7 linked regions of the Homo sapiens genome follow. The protein of the gene in region 1 purifies or fractionates together with the protein of each later gene. This does not show direct contact. Each region holds a gene or a part of one and is shown in the gene's direction. Other genes may lie near its edges. The genes, in order: ACVR1, ARV1, RHBDD1, SMAD5, CLCC1, DOCK5 and FAM114A2.

Region 1 (3,500 bases):
ATAAGCATTGAAAGAGCATGGCCCTAAAGTTTTTTGCAGGCATTTTTAGTTGTGGTGTAGAGGACTTTTATGGCTTATTCCATGGCTCTTAGAGCCAGGGCGATTTGGGTTTAAATTCTGGCTTTCTCAATTACCCTGTATTTTTGTGCAAGTCTATTTATCTATTTACCTGGCCCAAGTGCTGACACTGCTTTCACTCAGTGAGACAGGGACAGTGAGGGCGAAGGCGGATGGGGTTGGGAGTTAGCCAAGAGGAACTCCAGGGCTTGACGCTGTGCCCTGTACTTCTGCGTTGTTAGAAACTTGCATAACAGTGTGATCGTGGCCGGGCGCGGTGGCTCACGCTTGTAATCCCAGCACTTTGGGAGGCCGAGGCGGAAGGATCACTTGAGGTCAGGAGTTCAAGATGAGCCTGGCGAACGTGATGAAACCCCATCTCTACTAAAAATACAAAAAAAAAAAAAAAAGAAAAATAATAATAATAGCCGGGCGTGGTAGCGTGCGTCTGGAATCTCAGCTACTGGGGAGGCTGAGGCAGCAGAATTGCTTGAACCCAGGAGGCGGAGGTTGCAGTGAGCCGAGGTCGCGCTATTGCACTCCAGCCTGGGCGACAGAGCGAGACTTCGTCTAAAAAAAAATATATATATAGTGTGATCATATATTACTCATGTAACTAAAAAATAAGCCCACCTCACCGGATTCTGGTAAGGCCCAGAAGTATTATAAATGTCTGGTAAACAATAAGGATTCAAGTTGTAGCTTCTGTTATAATCCAGTGGTCTGGGGAGGGTGGACAAATTGAGGTGGCTCTTGGTTTTGGTTTATGGGACTTGGTAGGGAAGGAGTTGAGGGGAACTTTGCAGTAAGTCCAGCTAATTAATTCTTCAACTACATTTCTTTTGGCTTGTAACCTTCCAATTAGATATATGGGTTTGTATAAAAATCTGTTAAGGCGTTATTATTCAGGATATGGTAAAACAATGCAGTGCAGGAAACAACTCTTATAAGACCATAATTTGTATATAACTTACCAGTATATACCTAGCAATTAAGGATCATGTATTAGAAATAGTGTTCTATGATTAATCCTGCAAAAAGATCAGTATTATATTGATTAATTGATTGAGAGAGGATCTTATTCTGTTGCCCAGGCTGATCATAGGTCACTGCAGCCTCGATCTACTGGGCTTAAGCAATCTTCCTGCCTCAGCGTTCCAAAACAGCTGGGACTACAGGTGTGTACCACCACACCTGGCTAACTTTTTTTTGTTCTTAGTAGAAATGAGGTCTCACTATGTTGCTCAGGCTGATCTTGAACACCTGAGCTCAAGTGACAATCCCATCTCGGCCTCCCAAAATGTTGAGATTACAGATGTGAGCCACTGTGCCTCGTCTGTTTTTCTTTTTATTATTAAAAAATTCAAATGTTATAATGATCACTTAAATCCCGAACACCTAGATTCAATAATTGTTAAAACTTTGTGATGTTTGCTTTATCAATCTGTGACCATGTGTATATTTTTGCCAATCCATTTGAAAATAAAGTGTTACAGGCATCACAACACTTTACCCCTCAATACTTCAAAATTCATCCCTTGAAAATACTTAAAAATGCATCTTCTTCATAATCAGTTTTTCATATCTACAGATTATTGATAATTCTCTAGTATCATTTTATATTCATTTTCAGATGTTTTCAGTTTTTTCAAAGAGGAACTCAGCCAAAGTTTACAAATTGCATCCGGTTGTTTTGTCATCTTTAGTGTAAAAATTACTTATTACTAAGAACAAATCACCTGTAAAATTTAGCATCTTAAAACAACACAGATTTGTTATCTCACACAGTCTCTTGAGAGTCAGGAATCTTGGAATGACTTAGCGGTGTGGTTCTGGCTCAGGGTCTCGTGGAGGTTGCAATCATCTGAACGCTCAACCAGAGCTGGAGTTTCCAACTCTGTGAGGACACACTTAAAGCCATGATTGGCGGCAGGTCTCAGCTCCTTGCAGGGGGACCTCTCCACAGGGTTGCTTGAGTGTCTTTATAACATGGTGCATGGTGAGCTGAGAGGGACAAACAGGAAGCCTTTTATAATTTTATAACATCTGTTATATCCTAACTGTGAAGATACCCACTGTCACTTATGCCATAGTCTATTCAATAGTCCAGCATACACTCAAGGGATGGGGAATTATGCCTCACCTGGAGATCCTAGCAGTGGTGGCTTTAAAATATGTCCACAAGTTCTTTGAAGCTTCTCCCATCTTCAGAATATCTCCATGTTCTATTTAACCTGCACCTTTTAAATATTCTGATATTTTGACTGTTTGGTTCTGCAAATGGTGGAGGGGCATACAGTAGTCCCCTCTTTTCCCTGAGAAATACCTTCCAATACTCCCAGTGGATTCCTGAAACTCAGGATAGTACCAGATTCTATATATACTATGTTTTTTCCTATTACATACCTATTATAGTTTAATTTATAGATTAGCTACAGTAAAAGATGAACATTAGTAACACTAAAATGGAACAATGATAGCAGTATGCTATAATAAAATTTATGTGAATATGGTATCTCTCTCAAAATACTTAATTGTACTGTACTTACCTATTTTTGGACTGTAGTTGACTGCGGGTAACTGAAGGATAAGTGGGGGGACTATTGCATAGGATTTGGGAAATGTTCACAGTGTCCATAGAATCTTGGGGTTGATTATAAAAATAGGTGAAAGAGGAACCTGTCTGTTTTAGTGTAATGCAGTTGCCAGTATCTTTGCTAATTATTAAGGATGAGATAAGGTGTGCTAGCTCCCTGATGTTATATGAAATTGTCATCCCCCACATTCAAAGCCGTGGAGTGGAAGGTGAAGCATTCTCTGTAGATGGCTTGAGAGATCAACAAGGGATATTTGCATTGCAGTGGTTTACAGGGACTGCTTGCTCCAATTTGGCACTTTTCATTACAACAAATGTTATAGGAATCATTTTCAGTCAGTCTGCATATGCATCAGTAACATAAAATCATCCACAAATAAAGCATGCATGTATGTGTCTCCCCACTGGCCAGTGAAGAAAGCCTGTCTCCCTAATTGACTGAGGAATTCTGGAATGAGTCATGGTTTAAGAAAGCATTTGAAAGCCATTTAACCTGAGAGTTGTGCTTTCAATTGAGGTCCAGTTAAATGCTGTCTGTTTCCATGATTCTAGAGAAAAGGCCTGTGGGTTTGGTCAGCATTACTGCTCAGATAAGCAGCTCTTCCTTTAGGAATAAAGCAGTGCTTATAGCAATCTGCCCTTTATGTAGTGATAAATTACTTTAAATGCTCTATCTCACACTGTTGGAAATTTGTGTTTGGAGACTAGTGAGAGCAGTGGTGGAGCTTGAGAGCTTAATTTGCTTCTTGTTAAGCCACTTAGAGGCTCACATTTAACATGTGAGCCTGTTTTCCTGTGGACCTCAAACACAGGCCACATTGGTTTAGTGCATTGGTCTACAATTTAC
Region 2 (3,500 bases), on another chromosome or scaffold:
AGACATTCTCTCTGTTTTATTCATTAATGTAGCTGTATCACCCAGAACAGCGACTGACATTTAGTAGCCACTCAGTAAATGTCTGTTGAATAAATGTATCACTTCCAGGTTTTTAGATTAGCATATGCTTGGCCATCCAGGTAGGAGGAAGAGAACAAGATCTTATATGTGGTCTAAACTTAATAACTTTTGGACTGGTCCAATTAAATGGTCAGTTTGGAAGATGATAACCACATAACTGAATATGGTCTGAAGAAAAGCTGGTATTTGTATATGCATTTTAGTTAGTAGTCTTCAATAATACAAAAAATCTCTTTTTGTTGGCATTAAGCTAACAAAATCCCTTTGCTAAACAGCAGGTGTTTATTTTGTTTATGGAAAGGCAAAATAATTATTGGATAGCTGTTTAGGTCAACATTCACTTACCCCCTCCCCTTTGTTCCCTAACATGATACTCTTTCTCCCAAGAGATGGACTTTGGAGTTATATTTGGAATATTGAATGGTGGCACAGTACTTTATGGATTCGTTATTGTCCACAGTCATTCCATAATGAGACAGAGTGTCTAATGGCCTTGTCGCTATCATGCTAATGCATACTAAACTTTAGGCCATAATAGCACGACTCAGGGAAAATCATTTTGTTGATGCCAGACTAAAAAATTAAACCATGAAGCAATGAATTATTTTAAAGGCCCTCCAACCTCTGAGATACAAAAAGTAAGAAGTTTTTAAACATTAGACCATGTGTTGTGACATAATCTCCAGAGTTTCTAAGTGGTTACTCATATATACTTTGGTCTCTTCCCTGCCGAACTTGGAGTCAGCAAGATCCTCAGCCTGATCGCCCACGTGTATTTTTCATCCCAATCTCCTTTCCTTTTGCTCTGCTTGTTTCTTCACTGCCATTCCTCCCAGCTTGCCTTTCTGTGTTTCTCTGACTTTCCTCTAATATATCATGTGTCCCTTGCTTTTAACCAATCCTGCTGCTTCAGCTCTTCACAATTTATTATAAGTACGCTTAAAGATACAGTACTTTCGGCCTAGCACGGTGGCTCATGCCTGTAATCCCAGTACTTTGGGAGGCCAAGGCAGGCGGAGCACGAGGTCAGGAGTTCAAGACCAGCCTGACCAACACGGTGAAACCCCATCTCTCTAAAAATACAAAAATTAGCCAGGCGTGGTGGCGCACTCTTGTAATCCCAGCTACTCGGGAGGCTGAGGCAGGAGAATCTCTTGAACCCGGGAGGCAGAGGTTGCAGTGAAGCTGAGATTGCGCCACTGCACTCCAGCCTGGATGACAGAGTGAGACTCCGTCTCAAAAAAAAAAAAAAAAAGTACTTTTTATTTGCTATAGGGCTTGGCTTATTTTAAGTGCACAGATATTTAACAAATTCATTATTATGTTAACAAAACAAAACTCCTATAAGAGTCTCCTAAGTTTCCATTTCCTTCAGCACTACAGCATTCGGCTCCCACCCTTGGGATCCTAGATGCAAAGATGAATAAGACACAGCCCTACCCTTGAGGAGCTTAAAGACTTAAAGAAGGGAAGGGAATGCTCCTAGAGATGACAGGAAGGAAACAGCAGGAATATTTATGAAAAAAATTGGTTTGGCCGATTTATATTCTAAAAGAGATCTGATTCATTAGGCATTGGAGAACACAGCAGGACAGAGGAAGTCATATCCATGTTTAGACAGGTGATGGAAGCAGCCTGAATTCCCAGAGTATGCTTGGTCCTTGCGTTGTAGGGATTCTTTAGAGGAAGATTTTTCTCTTTTCAGGATACTTGCCTATAAAGTAGTAAATGAAACAATTTTGCCAAAATAAGAAACATAGGAAACATAGTTGCTAAATCTGGGCAGGCGTGATGATTCACACCTATAATCCCAGCACTGTGGGAGGCTAAATCGCAGATCACTTGAGGTCAGTAGTTCAAGACCAGCCTGGGCAACATGGTGAGACCACCCCCTGTCCCCCACCCATCTATACTAAACTACAAAAATCAGCTGGGCATGGTGGCACGCGCCTGTAGCCCCAACTACTCAGGAGGTTGAGGTGGGAGGATCACTTGAGCCAGGGAAGCAGAGGCTGTAGTGGGACAAGATCCTGCCACTGCACTCCAGGCCTAGGCGACAGAGTGAGACCTTGTCTCAAAAAGGAAAGAAAAGAAAAGAAACATATATACTAAATTGAATAAATACAACTCCCAGTGGTCTGCTTTGGGATGTCTACATTTGTTTGTTTCGTGTGTGTGTGTGTGTGTGCGTGTGTGTGTGTGTGTGTGTGTGTGTGTGTGTGTGTGTAGTTTTCCTCTTCACATTCAAGGTGAAGGCAGAGGGAAAGGAAGTTGCAAGCAGCACTTAAGGGAAAAGCAAATAATAGAGGGAGAACAAGGAAAGTGAGGTGTAAACTTGTTGTGCCCAGGGGTGTTAGAGAGAACGCCACACTTTGAGACGAATTAAGAGTCCTTTATTAAGCCGGCGGCCAAAGAGACAACTAATGCTCAAAATTCTCTCGGAAGGGGCTTGATTAACTTTTATATCTAGGTTTAGGAAGGGGAGGGGGACTCAAATGCAATAATTCTACAGAAGTAAAAACATGCAAGAATCAAAAGAAGCAAAATGGTTACAGAGAGATAAACAACTTAAAAGACAAATGGTTACAAGAAGAGCAACGGTACCAGGTGCAAGGTTCTAAATCCTTCATTATAATTAGATATAGGGTCTATGCCGGACACGAACTCAAGGTTTTATGTTGTTATCTCTTTGAGAAAAATCCTGGGAACTTCATACATTGTTGGTGTTAGTACCTTATCAGTTAATTGGGCTTTTTTGAAATGCTGATTATCTGTTTACCCAGGCCAACTCCTTACGGAAGGGGGTTGGGTAATGAGCCCTTAGTGTCTTGTAAATTAAGAGGTCAATTGGAGTTTGTCCGGCCTTCCCAGCTAGAGAGAGTCTTACTTACATGAGAAGCAAAGCTAGGTGATTAAAGAGACAAGCAGGACAAAATTCAAAGTAACGAGTTAGAGTAAAAACAAGGTTAGGCGTTTCAAACTGACTGAGAGGGAACCAGCAAACTTTAATGACTTCTCAGCATTTATAAAACATGCCGAATGCTAAGAAGGGAAATGGGCAAAGCACACAGCATATCACATACTACCAGAAGCTGCCTCCTCTGTTTGATTTCATATCACCCTGTGCTTATCCCATTGTAGCCGTTGGATGTTACATAGTCTGATGACTGTGGTCATGAGACCATATCATAGAGGCATGTTTGTCTTCTGCTTCTAAACTGTTAGATCCTTGAGGATAGAAACTGTGGCTGAAGGTGAATATCTAGCACCTTGGAAGTTCCTGGTCCATAAAATGGCCAAGAAAAGAGAACGATTGTTATACATGTAATAGCCACTCCAAAGACATTTGTCAAACAAATGAATGCAAAAGGAATAACAGCTGCTGTGTCTCCTGGTGCTGGTTTCTGCCTACCTCCTTC
Region 3 (3,329 bases), about 69 Mb from region 1:
ATTGGCCATTGTACCAGCCACTTGTCCTAGCCAAATGTCCAAAACACGCCCTTGGGCCCCGCCACGTTACAATCCACAGATTGTCTGTCTGAGTCGTTTAAGGCATTTCCTGGTGCTTGTGTTCCATGAATAAAAGGACAAAGTCAGAAGATCACTGATGTCTTACTGTCAACAGAGATATTTTAAAAGAGAGAAGCAGGAAAAGATCTTCCTTTTTTGATCTACAACTTATATAGTTTTCTGATTATGCACATAATAGATATGCCTTCCAGATGCATAAGGCAAACATCTGGAAAGAAATATACCCAAATCTTAGCAGGGGTTATCTTTGGGAGTGGAGTACATGGGATTTTGCTTTCTTCATTTTTATAATTTTATATTACTGTCTTGGAAGATGTGTTTATGTGTGTGTGTTACTTTTACAATCAGGAAAACATATTTAATAACATATAGTCAAGAAAACAGACTTAAAAATAAATACTATGTGTCCATTGAGAAAATTCACAATATAAACAGAAATACAAATAAATACATACACAATTTTAAAGTCACCTGTAGCCCTACCCTTAGAGGTACCCAGGGTTAACATTTTGGTGGTATTGTCTTATCAATTTTTCCGTTGATACATTCAGCAAATTTGGAGCACATTGACCATGGAGTTTTGTGTCCAAATCCAATCTGAATTTACCTGGAAGAGGCCTTGACACCTGCATGGAAATGAGCTAAGAAAACCACTGGAGCCTTGGGAGCTCTTTGGCCTCCTGGCTGGCCCAGTAATATCTGAGCTCCTTTGGTTAATTTATAACTGATATAAAACTACATCTTCTTTATAATATAAATTGTACCTGTGAGTCTAGAAGCTTTAAATGTGTTTAAATTAAAATATTCAAGCTAAATGTTACTGCTCTCTCCCAAATTCTGTAAGTTTGACTCCCGTTACCCCAATTAGAAGTAACTTCTTTGTTTCATGCCACTTTTATAGCATTTGGTAATTCTGCTATAACACATCTTGCCCCTATTATTAACTGTGCACAGCTACACAAAGGTGTGCCTTCTACGTGGGAACATGGATTGTGAATGACTCTGTAATGAGGCCTGAGTCTTAGTTATCTTTCCACTCACTCCCCGTCTCCCCTTTCCAACCCCAAAGGCTCACGATAGGGGCTCACTAAATGTCAGTGTTTCACCAAAGTATTTTTTCCATTGTATTAAGAGTCCAGTCACTGTATATGGAAGTATTTTATTTTTTATTTTTTTATATCACTTGAGTCCACTAGTAGTACTTCCTTGCTCTGTTTGACTTGTCAGATACAAAGACACGGGATTAGATTTTGGGTGGTAAAATTGTGATACGCATGGCTGTTGATGGAGTGGAACATCTTAGTGATGTGAGAAAGGTCATTTTAGTTATAAATGTAAACCAATTACTTTAGCACAACAATAAAGATGTTCTGGAAATTATTATAATTATTTTAGTTAATGGACTTGCCTGTAACAAGTGCTTATGTTTGGAATGTCCATTTTATTTTATTTTCCTCTACAATAAGGAATCCCTAAAGTTATGCCAACAAACTGGAATTGGATTGAGAAAGACAAAAGCAAGTGAGCAAGTGTATTAGACTAATTATCTCTAGTAGGGAATAAGCACTTAGAGCTAATTTTTTAATTTGGTTTATTTATTAGTAGCTCCCTGATTGTCTGTTAAGCCCCTGGTTCCCACAGTTTGGTGTGGTCAGTCAACTTAAGCGACCTTTTAATGCAGAATCTTTACTTGGTTCTGAAGAGGAGGCAGTAGTTAAAATTGCTTCCTCTTAATGACTCTGAATGTATTGCCTGTGATTCCAAAGTTGTACATAATTGTTCAGACCTCCTCCATCCTTTTAAATTGCCTGCTGCAGTAAATAACTAGTTTGAGTAGAACTAGATCCTGTCTATCTATTTGGCACATGTTCTGCTGCCTGGGGAGTAAGCAAGCTAAAGGGATGAGAAAGACCACCTCCCCCTACCCTGGAAATTGCACTGCAAGGCAGGGCGAGAATGGGGTAGCTGGCAGACCTGGCCTCCTTGTTCCCAGTCTTAGTTTTTCTTGAGAGATTCAGTATTCAGTAAAGAATAGCATTCAATTAGTCAAAAAATATATATATAACTTCTTCCTTTCCCTTCCCATGAATCATTGCAGTCATTCCCTAAGTTTCTTCTCTTTTTTTTTCATGGCTGCTAGTATTTTATTTTAGAATCACAGACTCTCAGCTTAGAGAGTCACAGTATCTCAATTATTTGCTCTGTTCAATACTTAACAATACCTCCTCACTCAATTCTACATAACTCCAGCTTAGTCTTCCAAAATTCACTTTCATGATGCCACTCAGCATCTCAAATACCTTTCATTGGCTCTCTGCTGCCAAAGGATAAAGGTCAAAGTCATTAGCCTCAACAGTGGGCTTCAACCAGCCTTTGGACCTCAGCCCCATTTATCCATCACAGAGGCTGGTAACTAGTCTCACTGCTCAGGCTGTGAGTGTTCCTGATCTTGTGACATTCTGTGCTGTGCTTTTACATGGAACAGCTCTTTCCTCTCTCTTGGCCCATTCAGATCCTCCTCATCCAGCCCCCATCTGAATCCTGTAACAGACACAACCACATCTACACAGTTTCCACATACCACTTGGAATTGCTGGTTATGCTGCAATGAGAGAATGTCTTTGTCTTTAAATTGTAAGCTTCATGAGGGCAGGGACCATCTGTTTCTCTGTCTCTCCTCACAGTGCCTTGAGCAGTACGTTGTCTGGAATGTCAGAACCAATAAATACTTGTGGATTGAAACAAAAAGAGAAGCTCATTTATACTGTCACCAGTGGCGCACATAAACACTAGTGCCTGGTGCTTATTGATATCATTGTAGGTCTTTTTTTTTTCCCTTGAATCAATCACATCAAGGAAAGAATGATGGAAAGCATTTGCTGGTAGAAATAGAGACTTCAGGGCCTTTGTCAGCCTGAAGACATGTCCCACTGCATCGAATGCTGTGACCTGGTACACAAAGCTCAAGATTCCCACACGACCAAGAAGTGTCACCAAGGAGTCCCTGTGAGTAGTACCGAATCTTGCCATGTGCTTTTTACAGGTCTGCGTTGGATGTGTTTGTGCTAACATTTTTTCCTTCTGTGGTATTTAGGGGCAGAGAGAGAATGATCTTAACATCTCGATCAGATGATAGATGAATTGGCAGATTTAGATATGTGATTTATACTTTAGAAAAACTAAAATGTTGCTAATATAATAGAAATCATTAAATTTGGTCATAATAGGTATTGCTGCTTGGGAAGAGA
Region 4 (3,500 bases), on another chromosome or scaffold:
TGTATCTGTCTGTCTGTCTCTCTGTCTCTCTGTACACTAACCACAAAGAAGGCAAATAGTTTATTTCTTCAAATGTTACAAGCAGCTTATAGCCTATGATTTGCCCGTCTTCTCATAGGGTCAAAGACATTGAGTAAGATTCCCTTTTATAAGGGATACTAGTAGCCTGAGGAATGATTCTTGTCTCCACCAGTCTGGATATTCTAGAGAAAAGAATACCTGGATATTCTAGAGAAAAGAATATTCTAGAGAAAAGAAAAGGCCCAAGGAAGCTGGGATGCAATATAGGGTGCTTTCCCATCAAAACAGATGATGAAGGACCCTTGGAAGCTGACCCATGGCATCCCCCCGCCACTGGGTTCTAGCTCTGTCGCCCAATCTGGAGTCCAGTGGCGCAATCTTGGCTCACTGCAACCTCCGCCTCCCGGGTTGAAGCAATTCTCCTGCCTCAGCCTCCCAAGTAGCTGGGATTACAGGCACCCACCACCATACCCGGCTAATTTTTGTATTTTTAGTAGAGACGGTGTTTCACCATGTTCGCCAGGCTGGTCTTGAACTCTTAACATACCTTGTTTTTCCACTTCTGAAGTTAATAGAATAATAGTCATTGGAATTTGCAGTTCATTGGTGTTGTCACATACCCTTTACCTCTAATCAGAAGTCTGAATCTGAGAAGTTTGTTTACTAAATGGGAGGTAAAGATTTAGAACTCTTTTGGAAGAATTGTTAAAAACTAGATTGTTGTTAGGACTAATCTCATAGGCCACCTTAATATTCTAACAGCTTTGTTGTTTTCCAACCTGGAAAGATGGGGTAATTACAGAGTTCTTAGGTTTTTCATAAATAATCAGCTAGTTCTGGGCTATTTATTTGAGAGTGTCTCTCTCTGTCGCCCAGGCTGGGGTTCAGTGACGCGATCTTGACTCACTGCAATTCTGCCTCCCGGCTTCAAGCGATTCTCCTGCCTCAGCCTCCTGAGTAGCTGGGATTACAGGCACCCACCACCACGTCCAGCTCATTTTTTGAATTTTTAATAGAGATGGAGTTTCACCTCGTTGGCCAGGCTGGTCTCGAACTTCTGACCTCAAGTGATCTGCCCGCTATGGCCTCCCAAAGTGCTGGGATTACAGGTGTGAGCCACCGTGCCTGGCTGGGCTCTTTATTTAGTTTTGATTTTTTTTTTTTTTTTTTTTGCCTTGGGCAGCTAGGGGGGATGTTTTTGGCCCAGTTCTAGTAGAGTGGTGTTTTCAGTGACTTTTCTTCCTCCTTTTACTGTATCCTACCTTGGTTGAGATGATATTTTGCAAGAAAGAGTTCTTTATTAAGTCAGTTCTGTGTGTGCAATACTATAATTGTAATTCACTTTTGGAAGCTAGTTATTAACATAACATTTTGTAACTAGGTTTTGCTCTTGAATTTTTTGGGACCCCCCCCCGCATCTCTTCCTATAGCATATATGTACTTTATAGACTGGTACAATATAGAAGTTTGAAAGTGATTTGACCTGTTAAGATTTTAGCAGGATTTTTTCTTTTGATATCCATATATGTTGTTTTGTTATACCGAAAATAATAGAAAAAAACTAGTGTCCCATTCCCACTTTTTCTCTGAGCATAGCAACTGGAGTCTTGGGAGGAGGCTTACATCTTTCAAATTTAACTATGATCTCAGAATATGGCTGGTGCTTTCAAGGCAAGTTTTGTTTTGTTCAGGTTTGTTTTCATGATGTGTTAGGATCTGCCTAGTATCCTATCTGGTAGGCTGTACAACTTGAGTTCTAGTTATTCTGGTTTGTGTGTTCCCAGGAAGAGGGGGGTTCTGCAAAAATATTTAAAAGCCAGTCTTCTTCTGTTTTCTTCTTAGTCACATCTTCTGTCTACTTTACTCATTGACCATTTCTCATTCTTTGGAGATGAAAGTGTAAATTAAGTGAATGATGACACTAGAGCTGAAAAGTTACCCAGAGTCATGTTTATTCCCTTTTCTACTAAGCAGGGAACTTGAACTCTGGGTGCACATGAGTTCTCTGGAGAACATCTTCATAATGCACTGTAATATATGTCGTGTACACAGGTTAGCTCTTTGTGCTCCAGAGACACATTTTACAGTCATGATTTGGTATCTGCACTTGATGATTTTATAATTTAAAGGAATCACTACAAAGATTGACCAGCTCTGTGTCTGTTCCTGTGCCTACACGCCTGTACAAGCATACTCAAACACATCTGGTAGCAATGTAGGAAATCTTGCAGGCTCTGTGGGGGTGAGTGATACATTTAGATCAGGCTCTGTTTAATTAGGGGACTTAGAGGAGCAGGTGAAGCTTAAAGAGTGATTAAAAACTGGGAAACAAAAGTCTGGCTGTGGGAGATAATAAAGTAGAGAATTCTGTGGGCACAGAATAGGCAAGAAGATTATGCAGTGAGAAGTGTTGGGAATCATGAGTTCAGCTCCTGAAGGGCTTTGAAATCTGCTATGAGAACTTCTTATGTCTTTGGAAATCGGGAGCCACAGTTGAGGAAAGTGGTGATTTAAATGTTTCTCTGTGAAAATAATTTTGGCGCCCATGTAATTGTATCCTGTCTTTCTTGTAGATGTTCTTATAAAGAATAGGATTTCTGAATCTAGAAGAGCTGTGAGCAAACATGCTTTTGGTTTCCTTCTCCTCTCTGCGTGCAGTTGTGAATGTGGCTTACAAAGTTGATAGCAGTTGTATACATGGATCTAGGGATGGTTTGACAGTGGTGGTGGTGGTTGTCTACTTGCTGACACTTGGTGACTACTATTGATAATGAGAACCACAAGGGTAAGAGATTTTTAAAGCTTTACCCCCACATCCCCCCTGCCCCCAAAAGTTACCCTTAGGTTGTATGTATGCAAGTGTCTTTCTTCCATTGCAGGAGATCCTGAGCACCTTGGTTCCCAAGCCTCCTGCATGGTCCGAGATTCTTGTTAAAAATGTGGGCAGTAAGGCCCTTCTGCCAAGCTTAGTGAATCTGAATTTTGAGGGATGGTTCTAAGGAATTTGTTGATTTAAAAACCCCATGTCCAATTATTTTGTACAGGTTTGAATTAGAATACAATGGGTTGTGACCCATTATGGGCATTTATTTTCATGGGATGATGTGCTCAGGAGATTTTGTTTTGGCCAATAGTGTTGAGGAAAATGTGGGGATTGGTTTGCTTGCCTTTTTATTTCAGATTGCAGCAGTCATAGAGATGTTGGAGCACAAAGTGAAAGAGTTGTTTCTGTGAATTCACTTTAGAAATCTAGCTGTGAGCTCTGTGTGTGTGTGTGTGTGTGTGTGTGTGTGTCTTTCTGTATGTTTTTCTGTATGTATGTGTGTCTCGGGGTGGGTATTGAAGTCAGTTTGTGTGTGTGTTTATTATGAAAGTTGGTCAGGATGTAGTACTTCCATAACCTTAGGTAAGAACAGGACCTTTGGGTTATTGATTCAACATGAATTCATTTGAAATAGAAGCTTTGTGAAGCTTAGCAA
Region 5 (3,480 bases), on another chromosome or scaffold:
AAGTCTACTTTGACAGCTAGCAAGGCGACATGCAACTGTTGTTGAATGATGACAGCAATTCAGGAAAGACTTAAATATGAAAGCAAATTGAACACATCGGGTGTTTGTTATCAGAAAAGAGATGAGATGAGATAAGACTTGTTTATTGACTAGCCAATATGTCATTAAAATTAAGGTTTATATTGTGAAGCTTTTTTGAAATTTTACTTTTTTTTGAGAGTTTTGCTCTGTCACCCAGGCTGGAGTGAGGTGGTACAATCTCGGCTCACTGCAACCTCCACCTCCCAGGTTCAAGAGATTCTCCTGCCTCAGTCTCCCGAGTAGCTAGGATTACAGATGTGCATCACCATGCCTGGCTAATTTTTGTATTTTTTAGTAGAGATGGGGTTTCACCATGTTGGTCAGGCTGGTCTCGAACTCCTGACCTCAAGTGACCCGCCCTTGTCGGCCTCCCAAAGTGCTGGGATTACAGGCATGAGCCATTGTGCCCAGCCTATATAGTGTGAAGCTTTTAGGAAAATCAGAACAGGGTAGACAGCTGTTAAAAACAATGTTTAAATGGAATAATGTTGAATGTTTACAGGCTGTAAGAACTATTGTATACACAAAATAATACACAAAGTTTGTACTTTGTGTACAAATACAAATTTGTACTTTGTGTACAAATAATACAAAAAGTTTGTATACACAAACTTTTTACGTTGTGGTTTGGTATATTGTCTTAACTGAATTTTCTTATAAGAACCCCATGAAACTTACCTGAGTTTTTAAAATGCTATCCAGGACATCATACCTTATAGTATACATGAAACATAATGTAATCCAGGTTGTAATTTAGAACTTTTTTTTTTTTTTTAGCTGAGCACTTAATGTAATTAATTCCAGGTTATGACTCTTAAAAAACATTGGCCATTAGAGAAATAGTTCTATTTGCCCATCCAAATCACCTGAATGACTTTTTGAAAGAATAGGGGTCCACATCCCCAGATCCCATCCCAGCTGTGCACAGTCTGAAGCAAGCAGAGTGAAACAAGTTGGCAACTTGTTCCAAGCGTGGGCCTTTGCAGTCTGTGATCCAGTGTTACTCCAGGTCCCAGTCTGTCCCATACTTGTCTTTTGCTACAGTTAGTTAGTTACTTTGTTATCATCCCCTTGTAAACTGCCTTCAATATCTGGGATAAGGAAGACAAAGCTTAATGACAACTAAGGTTCTAGCTGACATCTTTCTTTCATATTTAATTTTTGTGAGTTTTCATCTGTTTTCTGTTTGTTTATGTGTCCTAGGTTCTTGACCTAACCACATGGGTTTTGTTTTTTGTTTTTATATTAGAACTTAGAAAAGTTTGTTTTACAGCAGTATTATGGAACAGAAGAGACCATTTTAAATAATTTTTTTAAACAGCCCAAAACACACAAAAGATACTTGTTTTCTAGAGACAGGGTCTTGCTCTGTCACCCAGGCTGGAGTGCAGTGGCACGATCATAGCTCAGTGCAGCCTCCACCTCCTGGGCTCAAGTGGTCCTCCTGCCTCAGCCTCTTAAGCAGTTGGGACTACAGGTGTGTGCCAGCATGCTTGCTGTTTTTTTTTTTTTTGAGACAGAGTCTTGCTCTGTCACTCAGGCTGGAGTCCAGTGGCTTGGTCTCAGCTCACTGCAATCTCTGCCTCCCAGGGGTTCAAGTGATTCTCCTGCCTCAGCCTCCCAAGTAGCTGAAACTACAGGCGCATGCCACCATGCCCAGCTAATTTTTGTATTTTTAGTAGAGACAGGGTTTCACTATGTTGGCCAGGCTGGTCTCAAACTCCCGACCTCAAGTGATCCGCCCGCTTCGGCCTCCCAAAGTGCTGGGATTACAGGTGTGAGCCACTGCGCCTGGCTGCTGATTTATTTTTCATAGACACGGGGGTCTATGTTGCCCAGGTTGGTCTTGAACTCCTAGCCTCAAGCGATCCTCCTGCCTCAGCCTCCCAATGTGCTGGGATTACAGGAATGAGCCACCATGCCCAGCCCAAGAAGTAGAGTTTCTTTTATACTGACTTTGGCCTAAAAAAACAGATTTTCATGGAGGAAAAAAAAACCTAGATTTTTAGTAAGACTATTTTATATACTTTTTTACATTGATCAAGTACATTATTTTTACCAAACAACATTGTTTCCCACTACATCCATGGTTATGTATAAAAAAACGCCATTGTCAATTAAGATGTTAAAAAATTATTTCCATAAGAGTATTAAATTCTAATCTATGATTCACTTAACTTCCTACTTTATAAACACTAGGTAAAGTAATCTCACAAGCTGCCAAAGAACACATCCCAAGCAGTAATCACAGACGATGAAGCACCTTACAGGACCCCTCCACCCTCAAACGCGCATGTCCAGAGAAGTATTAATGCCTTAATAGACTACTGAAGGTTAACTATTTACATCATTCTAAAAATATTTTAAGCTGTATTACAGTGCTATAAATTCTCCTTTTAAGGAAAAAAGTAATAGATTGTTTCCTTACCGTGTTTGAAAGGAAAAAAAATAAATCCATAGTAACTAATGGTCTGCCGATTTTTTCCCTGAATTTTTAAACTCCAACAAAGCATTATTTTGCAAAAAGTCCTTTAGCCCAAAGTCAGTGTCTCTGTTTTGATCTCTTTGTAAAAGAACTCTCTGTTCATCCATTCTCTTTCCCTGGGACCGTAAAATAAGGCTGAAAAAGTCTTCATCTGGTACTGTCGGACCCTTTGTGGTAGCAGGTGGTGGAGCACATCTTTGATCATCTAATCTGGATCCCTAGAAGTTTATGAGAGAGATTAAAAGACATACTGTGGGAAAGAAAGCACCAAGCTATGTTAAATCTCTCAGTCACAACAAGAAAACGCAGTTGTAAACTTTTATTTGGGGCTTCTCAGAAATTAATCTTTGTTTTTATATTGTTCTCTTTAGTTCCCAGCCTGATTTCTGAAAGAAATAATCTTTAAACCTGAAACTGCATAAAATTTTTCCTTTAAAATGGCTTATATAGGTATAGCTGCTTCATTGGTTTAGTACGTGCATTATGTTAAGTCATACTGTTTTAATTATAATTGGTCACAAGGATAAAAGACAAGGTCAACTGTATCTAAGTATGACAGTTCAAGGTTATAATCTAACAGGCATCAACTGTGTAACTTAACAAATCTTTAGAAATATGTACAAACCCCATGAGGAACTACCTTAAAAAAATCACGTCTTAGGCTAGGGGACAGCAAACTGTAACCCAGTGCCGGCTTCTGTAAATGAAGTCATTTTCATTTTCCCATCAATACATATGTTTATATACTATCTATATGGCTGCTTCCCTACTAAATGGCAGAGTTGGGCAGTTGCAATAGATACCATATGGGCGGCAAAGCCTAAAATATTTTCTATCTGGCCTTTTACAGAAAAAGTTTGCCTGCCTCTGTCTTAGGCTGTTAAATCTGTTAAGAAATAGCCCAGAATGAATTT
Region 6 (3,500 bases), on another chromosome or scaffold:
AGGCTTGCCCCCCTCTCCCCTGTACCCAGGCATATCACCATCCCCTCCCAGATTGAAGCTGGGCTATGGCTTGTTTCAGGACTCAGCAGCCTGGGTTAGTGTCAGGTCGCAGATTGTGGTAAGGAAAGCACATACCTCATGAGAAGTTCGAGTCTATAAATCAACATTGGTGAAGATCTTGTACCCACAATGTAAACATGTGGGTTGATGCTTAGAGCTGTCGTTCTTGCCACTCTGTCCCCTGAGTCAATCCAAACATTGTCATTTCTCTTCTTTAATTTTTTTAAAAGGTACTTTTCCTTCCATATCAAGTTGTTAAATGTGGCAAGACCACCTTTTCCTGAGAATCAGGGTGGCTTATTTCCAACATAAATGACACAGCCCAACTGTGATCAGAAGAATCAAGTCTGTGGCCATTCAGAAAATAATCTGTGGTTCAGTGGTTCTAGTCAGTGCCTGTTCGGTGTTGCCCATCATATGACAATGCTTAAAAATCGCTCCTTCAGTTAAGTCCTTTTCCAAGTGTCTTCTCAGAAGACAAGGCTGTTGAGAGCATTGTTGAGCTCAGCCTTCCTCACCGTGAAAATGTTTTGCTTTTTCTCTCTGGTCCTAGAGCCCAACCAGAAAAGCACAAAGGCCAAAGAGTCTCCAGTTGATGGATAATCGGCTATCACCATTTCACGGTTCTTCACCTCCTCAGTCAACACCCTTGAGCCCACCTCCACTCACTCCCAAAGCCACCAGGACCCTAAGTAAGTTTTCCTGTATTCCTTATAGTCTTTTTACTAGGGAATGGAGTATGTTTATGCATCTGGGCAGTTTGTAACTAAACCAGCCAGAATGTATGTAAGACCATTGTAAAACTGGTTCAATTTCGTGTTCGTGTATTATACAGTTAGACTGGAGTTTGGCAAGGAGGCCACTAGGACTCATTAAACTTTTCTGGATAGTGATCCAAAGGGCATTAGTGTCAGTTTTATAATTGTGAAGGTATAAATGAGGCAGATCTGCACTAGGACTAGACAGATAACAAGTAACTTACAAGCTAACCATTAGTTAGGTAGACCTGAACAGGGACAAGAAATAGACCCATTCCATCTACTGCTTATAGTCTGGCTTGGGGAACCAGCAGTGCACAACACTTGAGAAGAATTGCAAAGTACCCATAGTCCAGAGGCATGGTAGAGGGATAAATCTATCGAGCCAGATGGGAGACAATTGTCAACCAAGAGTTAGAGATAATCAGTTACAGTTTCCTGGAGGAAGTGGATATTTTCCTAAGCACTTGGGCTATATCAGAGAACAGAATAATACCATACATTCCAGAAAATGTTGTCATCTTCAGCTTAATACTAAAACCCTGAACAAAAAAAGTTTTGGCCAGGCACGGTAGCTCACGCCTGTAATCCCAGCACTTTGGGAGGCCGAGGCAGGTGAATCACGAGGTCAGGAGATCGAGATCATCCTGGCTACAGTGAAACCCCATCTGTACTAAAAAATACAAAAAATTAGCTGGGCGTGATGGTGGGTGCCTGTAGTCCCAGCTACCTGGGAGGCTGAGGCAGGAGAATGGCGTGAACCCGGGAGGCGGAGCTTGCAGTGAGCTGAGATCGCGCCACTGCACTCCAGCCTGGGCAACAGAGCGAGACTCCATCTCAAAAAAACAAAAATAAAAAAAATAAAGTTTTTGCTTCAGAACACCTTGTGGAGCTCTTGAAACTTCTGGCGAGGGCGTCACCTGTGTGATGTGGGGTAAGAAGTCTTCTTCGTTCTATCCGCAGAAACCATAGAATGTGGCTTTCATCAGTTGGTTGACCAGGTTGGCTTAGGTGTTACAGTGCCAGCAACATTTCCATGAGCTTCCTTGCTCAGTGCCTCTCTCTGCCGCCTGCACTTTCTGTCATTTCTAGGCTCCCCATCGTTGCAGACAGATGGAATCGCGGCCACTCCTGTCCCACCTCCACCTCCCCCCAAAAGCAAGCCCTATGAAGGCAGCCAGAGGAACTCCACTGAGGTAGGGAAATCACAGCTGGCAACTGTGGCCAGGGAGCGCCACTCCTGGGAAGGCAGCATCAGGTTTTCCAGGCTCTTTAGTGGGCAGGTTTGCTCATAGACCTGTCACTGCAGTCGATTCTTGGCTCATTCCTGAAACCACAGGAGATAGAGAAGTTTTCAATGGGAAGGACAGACATGCAAGCAGATGATGAAGGTAGAGGCAGGTGTTCTCTGTACCTCGTCCTGGGTACCTGTGAAATAAGCCGTGAGTTCTAGTTCACCTTTTTAGGGGGGCGGGGGCAGGGTCTGGCTCTGTCACCCAGGCTGGAGTGCAATAGTGCGATCATAGCTCACTGCAGCCTCAAACTCCTGGGCTCAAGTGATTCTCCTACCTTGGCCTCTCAATTAGCTGGGACTACAGGCATGTGCCACCATGCCCAGCTAATTTTTTAATCTTTTGTTGAAATGGGGTCTCTCCATATTGCCCAGGCTGATCTCAAACTCCTGGCCTCAAGTGATCCCCCCCACCCACCTCAGCCTTCCAAAGTGCTGAGATTACAGATGTGAGCCACTGCCTGCCCCCAGCCCTCTATTTCACATTTGAAGAGTTTACTTCTTCTGAATAAAGGACAGTCATTCTGGAGTGACCTCAGATGGGTTTCCTTCAGTCATTTAACAAATGACTTTTAAGTGCCTCCTGTCTATACGCCAGGAACCCAAGTGTTGGGGATATGGCAGCGAGAGAGAGAGAGAAAATGTGTGTGTGTGTGTGTGTGTGTGTGTGTGTGTGCGCGCGCGCGCACGCACGCACGCACGCACGCGTGTGTCTGATTAGCTCATGGGAAACAAGGAGGATAAGTCAGTGTAGTTTTCCATTTCACTTTGCAAAGCCTGTGTAGATAAACTCAGATCAATTAGAAGCTAAAGCAGAATATGAGAAATAGGAGGAGAAGGCAGAATTGGGAAGAAAGCTAAGACCTGCTTCTAATTTTGTGTTTCTGCTTCTGCAGCTCGCTCCCCCACTGCCTGTCCGAAGAGAAGCCAAAGCACCACCCCCTCCACCTCCAAAGGCTCGGAAGTCTGGCATCCCTACTTCCGAGCCTGGATCCCAGTAAGGATCTTGCCCTCCCTGCAACACCGAGTGCCTTAGACAGCTGCTGCCTGAGAACTGGCCTCCAGCCGGTGTCCTCATTCCATGGGGCTCCCTGCTGACTGCATTTCCTGATCTGGGATGATGTTTACCAGCCCAAAACCAGTCATGTTCTTCCAAAAGCTTCTCTTTGATAGAATTTTGAGGCCATGCCACCTCCCTTCCAGTCCACATGGAATTCCAGAATCAGTCACAGCCTCTGATTTTTTCCAAGAAGAGATTGCCTTCACCATTGTTAAATGTCAGCCTGTACGGCAGAGACATGGTGGTCTGCACAAGCCTGGACAAGTTCTTCCATATTGATGGTGGAGCAACCCCTGTAATCTACTCCTTGGAAGGATTTTTTGCTTTGCTT
Region 7 (3,500 bases), on another chromosome or scaffold:
ATTTTTTTCTATCTGTGAGGTGAGTTGTAATAATGTAGAGTTCCTGTGAGGTTTAAATGTGTTCACACACATAGCTCTTACAAAGGGCCTGGCTCATAGTAAATAAATGCTCACTGTTGATGGCTCCACAGAAGACAGCCCGATGTCCTCTACATGTAGCTGTTCAATAAATATACATATGTGTTCAATAAACCTTTATTATGCTTAGTAATTTGCTAGGTGCTAGGGAAATAATCATGAAAAAGACATAGTTTACATGCTTAATGAGAGATCACATTAATACGTATTTTTGTAAGGCCAGTAACTCCTTATCTGTCTGGCAGTTCTCGCCATTCTCTGAAAGCAATCTTCAGATTGTTTAAATTTTAGGCATTGAGACTTAAGATGTAGATTGGTTAAGGATCAAGGCCTTAACCATTGGCCCTCAAAAGATTTATATGGCAGGCTGTGATGTAGGGGAAAGAGCACTGAATTAGGAGTCCGGGAATATGATTCTGTGATTCTGATTCTTGTTCTAATACTCACATGTGGTGTGGCCTGGGGCAAATTCATTTTCTTCTGTGGGCCTCATTATTTTTCTGTTGGAAATAAATAAGCTTTTGGAGAAGCCAAGTTCAAAGGTACCTATTGAGATCTGCAGATCTCAACAAGTGGGAAGTTCCAGACTGAAATGTGGTCGTGGATGACATTAATTATTTTGGGAAAGGATAATAAATTACCTTGAGTTGGCACAATAGTTCATGATGATTTCACTTAATATATTTATTACAAGAGAGGTCACTTTGGGTATGCTCTATGCCTACTAAAATATCTCCTGGCCAGGCGCGGTGGCTCACGCCTGTAATCCCAGCACTTTGGGAGGCCAAGGTGGGTAGATCATGAAGTCAGGAGTTCAAGACCAACCTGGCCAAGATGGTGAAACTCCGTCTGTATTAAAACTACAAAAATTAGTCAGGCGCAGTGGCAGGTGCCTGTAATCCCAGCTACTCGGGAGGCTGAGGCAGGAGAATAGCTTGAACCAGTGTGGCAGAGGTTGCAGTGAGCTGAGATCATGCCACTGCACTCCAGCTTGGGCGACAGAGTGAGACTCCATCTCAAAAAAAAAAAAAAAAAATCTCCTTTGGGTATATTAAATTTATGGTATCCGTTTTTTCTTTTATGTGGTCTATCACTCTCCATTTTTCTTTTTTAATCTCTGATAAATTAATCCTTCATTTTTTTACTCAATTTGTCTCTTCAAAGATATTGCAAAGAATTTAACATATTGTTTGTATTATTAGTCAACTGTTATGATTCTTTCCAGCCTCATCTCTCAGTGTTCTCTTCTGTAAACCTCACTACTCCAACCTAATTTTCTGTCACACTCCTCATCCTCTATATTCTTCCTTACTGGCCTTTATTCTGTTTCTCAGGTGTACCAAGCTGATTTCCCTGTGCTTACAACTCTCTTTGCCTAACTATTTGTATGGCCAATTCCTTCAGATTTCAGCTGAAACATAACTTTTCAGAGACCCTTCCTGACCACCCAAACTCAAGCCACCTTCTACCCATACCCACCGTTACTCCATTTTATTTTCTTTATGTATGTTTTTGTTTGTTTGCTTGCTAATTGCCTTATTAGGAGAGAGAAGAGCAGACTCCTAGTTTGTATTATTCACCATTGAATCCCCAGCACTGGCACAGTGTTAGTATATATTTGCAATAAATGAATGAGTAAAATGCCAGTATCCTATATTTTGGTCTTGCTAGATATCTCACTGTTTGCCTACACACTTTGCATTTTTCTGTTTCCAAGCCTTTATATAGTTCATGCTGTTTGGTGTTTTGAATTTGAGAGGTTAATGCTTAAGTAATGGGAAGGTATAGATCAGAGCTAGATTGTTCCTGAATGTTTTTGTGGGAGGATATAGGGAAAGAACCCTACAGTGAAATTCTGGGAACACAGGTCTGCTTTAGCTCATTCGGGTAGCCTTGGGTGTAGCCCCACTTGCTGATCCTTCAAGGCCTAACTCCAGTACTGTATGTGTAATAAAACCTGTTTTCTCAGTTAGAATGACTCTCAAAGTCTTCTCTGGATTCCTATTACCTCATGACAGCTTTGAACACATTCTGTGTATGTAAAGTTAATAAACTAGGTGGTAATAAACAGTTTCTGAGAAACCAGGACTCTTTCACTTGCAAATGACAGAAACTCAAGTTAAGAAACTTAAAAAATAACAGAAACTAATTTAAAAGAGGGGAATTCAGTAGCTCAAGAAAATAGAAAATCAAGGAGCAGAACTGGCTTCAGGCATGGCTCTATTCAGGAACCTATCTCTATCCCTATCTGTGTCTTTCGGCTTGCTTCCTTTTTGTTTTGGCTTCATTCTTAGGGAAGCTTTTCCATATGGTGGTAAAATGACCATTGGCAGCTTCAGGGTGGGTGACTTTTTTCCATTTCGGTAACTCTTACTGAAAGAACACTTCTTTTTGCTGATAATTTTACCAGATGTCCTGAGACTGATGTCCATTGATCTGGCTTGGGTTACTTTTTAATCTATGCACCACTTACTCTGTGGACAGGGGTATTAGTATTCTCAGTAGCTAAATCTGAATGGTTTGCCAACTTTTGGAGCCAAAAGATGGAAGCAGCTGCACCCAGGTCACATGAACTAAGGAGAATCTAGAACCTGCCACCAAAAGAAAGGAGATATGGGTGCTGGTCATATCCATATCCAAAACAGTAGATGTTCTTCACAGTGTGCTGGACACTGGGTGTGCAAAGCCAAATAAAACACTCTCTAGCTATCCTATAATACATAGTTTAGTTAGGAAACAGATAATTCTACTATATTTGGTTAAGTTCTGAATTTAAGTTACCTGAAAGAGATGATGTCTGGGTAGAGGATTGAAAGAACAAGTACAGTAGAGGTCATTCTTACCAGAAGATAAAGTGGAAAATGATAAGAGATGAGGCTGGAAAAGTAGGTAGGGTCTAGGTCATGGAGACCTGTTACATCATGTAAAGAGCATGATCTAGTTGATGAGGAGCCATTGAAGGAAAGAGGAATGGTCAGCCCTGGGCTTAAGACAGATCACTGGTAGCATTTTGGAAGATAGATTTAAGATAAACAGATCAGAAGCAGAGAGACCAGTCATGAAGTGGATCTGAACTCAAGTAGTGGTAATAGGGAGGAGGAAGACGGGAAGAGGATGATGAGGGGCTTGGATAAAATCAGACCATCTTGGTGATTGGTTGGAGAGGAAAAAAATCTAAGATGGCCCCTATATTTTGGCTCAGGTAACTGGTACCTGGTGGCACCTCTAAAACTTTGGGAAATAAAAGAGGTTGAAAAATTTGGGGTAAGAAGAGAAAGACAATGAGTTCAAAGTTTTTATTTGTTGTATGTGTGATGCCTGCAGAGTATTTTGTCTAGCAGACATTTGGAATAAGTTTTCAGGAGAGGTCAGGTCTAGAAATAAGGATCTAAGAGTCAACAGCAGGTTGAGGATAGTTGAAA

Evidence for each region.
Region 2: the proteins of ACVR1 (region 1) and ARV1 purify together in Homo sapiens (affinity purification with mass spectrometry; 3 studies listed by BioGRID and IntAct, with this or other methods). This does not show direct contact.
Region 3: the proteins of ACVR1 (region 1) and RHBDD1 purify together in Homo sapiens (co-immunoprecipitation; one large-scale study listed by IntAct). This does not show direct contact.
Region 4: the proteins of ACVR1 (region 1) and SMAD5 purify together in Homo sapiens (affinity purification with western blotting, with the first as the bait; 2 studies listed by BioGRID). This does not show direct contact.
Region 5: the proteins of ACVR1 (region 1) and CLCC1 purify together in Homo sapiens (co-immunoprecipitation; one large-scale study listed by IntAct). This does not show direct contact.
Region 6: the proteins of ACVR1 (region 1) and DOCK5 purify together in Homo sapiens (co-immunoprecipitation; one large-scale study listed by IntAct). This does not show direct contact.
Region 7: the proteins of ACVR1 (region 1) and FAM114A2 purify together in Homo sapiens (co-immunoprecipitation; one large-scale study listed by IntAct). This does not show direct contact.

What each region holds. Positions count from the first base shown.
Region 1 is NC_000002.12:157,761,331-157,764,830, reverse strand, and holds part of ACVR1 (activin receptor type-1 precursor), read left to right. Parts: intron 1-3,500. UniProt on the Homo sapiens protein: Bone morphogenetic protein (BMP) type I receptor that is involved in a wide variety of biological processes, including bone, heart, cartilage, nervous, and reproductive system development and regulation.
Region 2 is NC_000001.11:230,982,094-230,985,593, forward strand, and holds part of ARV1 (protein ARV1), read left to right. Parts: intron 1-3,500. UniProt on the Homo sapiens protein: Plays a role as a mediator in the endoplasmic reticulum (ER) cholesterol and bile acid homeostasis. Participates in sterol transport out of the ER and distribution into plasma membranes.
Region 3 is NC_000002.12:226,996,382-226,999,710, forward strand, and holds the end of RHBDD1 (rhomboid-related protein 4), read left to right. Parts: 3' UTR 1-2,829; downstream 2,830-3,329. UniProt on the Homo sapiens protein: Intramembrane-cleaving serine protease that cleaves single transmembrane or multi-pass membrane proteins in the hydrophobic plane of the membrane, luminal loops and juxtamembrane regions.
Region 4 is NC_000005.10:136,135,845-136,139,344, forward strand, and holds part of SMAD5 (mothers against decapentaplegic homolog 5), read left to right. Parts: intron 1-3,500. UniProt on the Homo sapiens protein: Transcriptional regulator that plays a role in various cellular processes including embryonic development, cell differentiation, angiogenesis and tissue homeostasis.
Region 5 is NC_000001.11:108,929,005-108,932,484, reverse strand, and holds the end of CLCC1 (chloride channel CLIC-like protein 1 isoform 1 precursor), read left to right. Parts: 3' UTR 1-2,544; coding exon of another isoform or gene 2,545-2,784; 3' UTR 2,785-2,980; downstream 2,981-3,480. Other genes in the region: GPSM2 (G-protein-signaling modulator 2), read right to left, coding at 2,545-2,784. UniProt on the Homo sapiens protein: Anion-selective channel with Ca(2+)-dependent and voltage-independent gating. Permeable to small monovalent anions with selectivity for bromide > chloride > nitrate > fluoride.
Region 6 is NC_000008.11:25,408,189-25,411,688, forward strand, and holds part of DOCK5 (dedicator of cytokinesis protein 5), read left to right. Parts: intron 1-613; coding exon 614-752; intron 753-1,910; coding exon 1,911-2,014; intron 2,015-3,005; coding exon 3,006-3,110; 3' UTR 3,111-3,500. UniProt on the Homo sapiens protein: Guanine nucleotide exchange factor (GEF) for Rho and Rac. GEF proteins activate small GTPases by exchanging bound GDP for free GTP. Along with DOCK1, mediates CRK/CRKL regulation of epithelial and endothelial cell spreading and migration on type IV collagen.
Region 7 is NC_000005.10:154,004,411-154,007,910, reverse strand, and holds part of FAM114A2 (protein FAM114A2), read left to right. Parts: intron 1-3,500.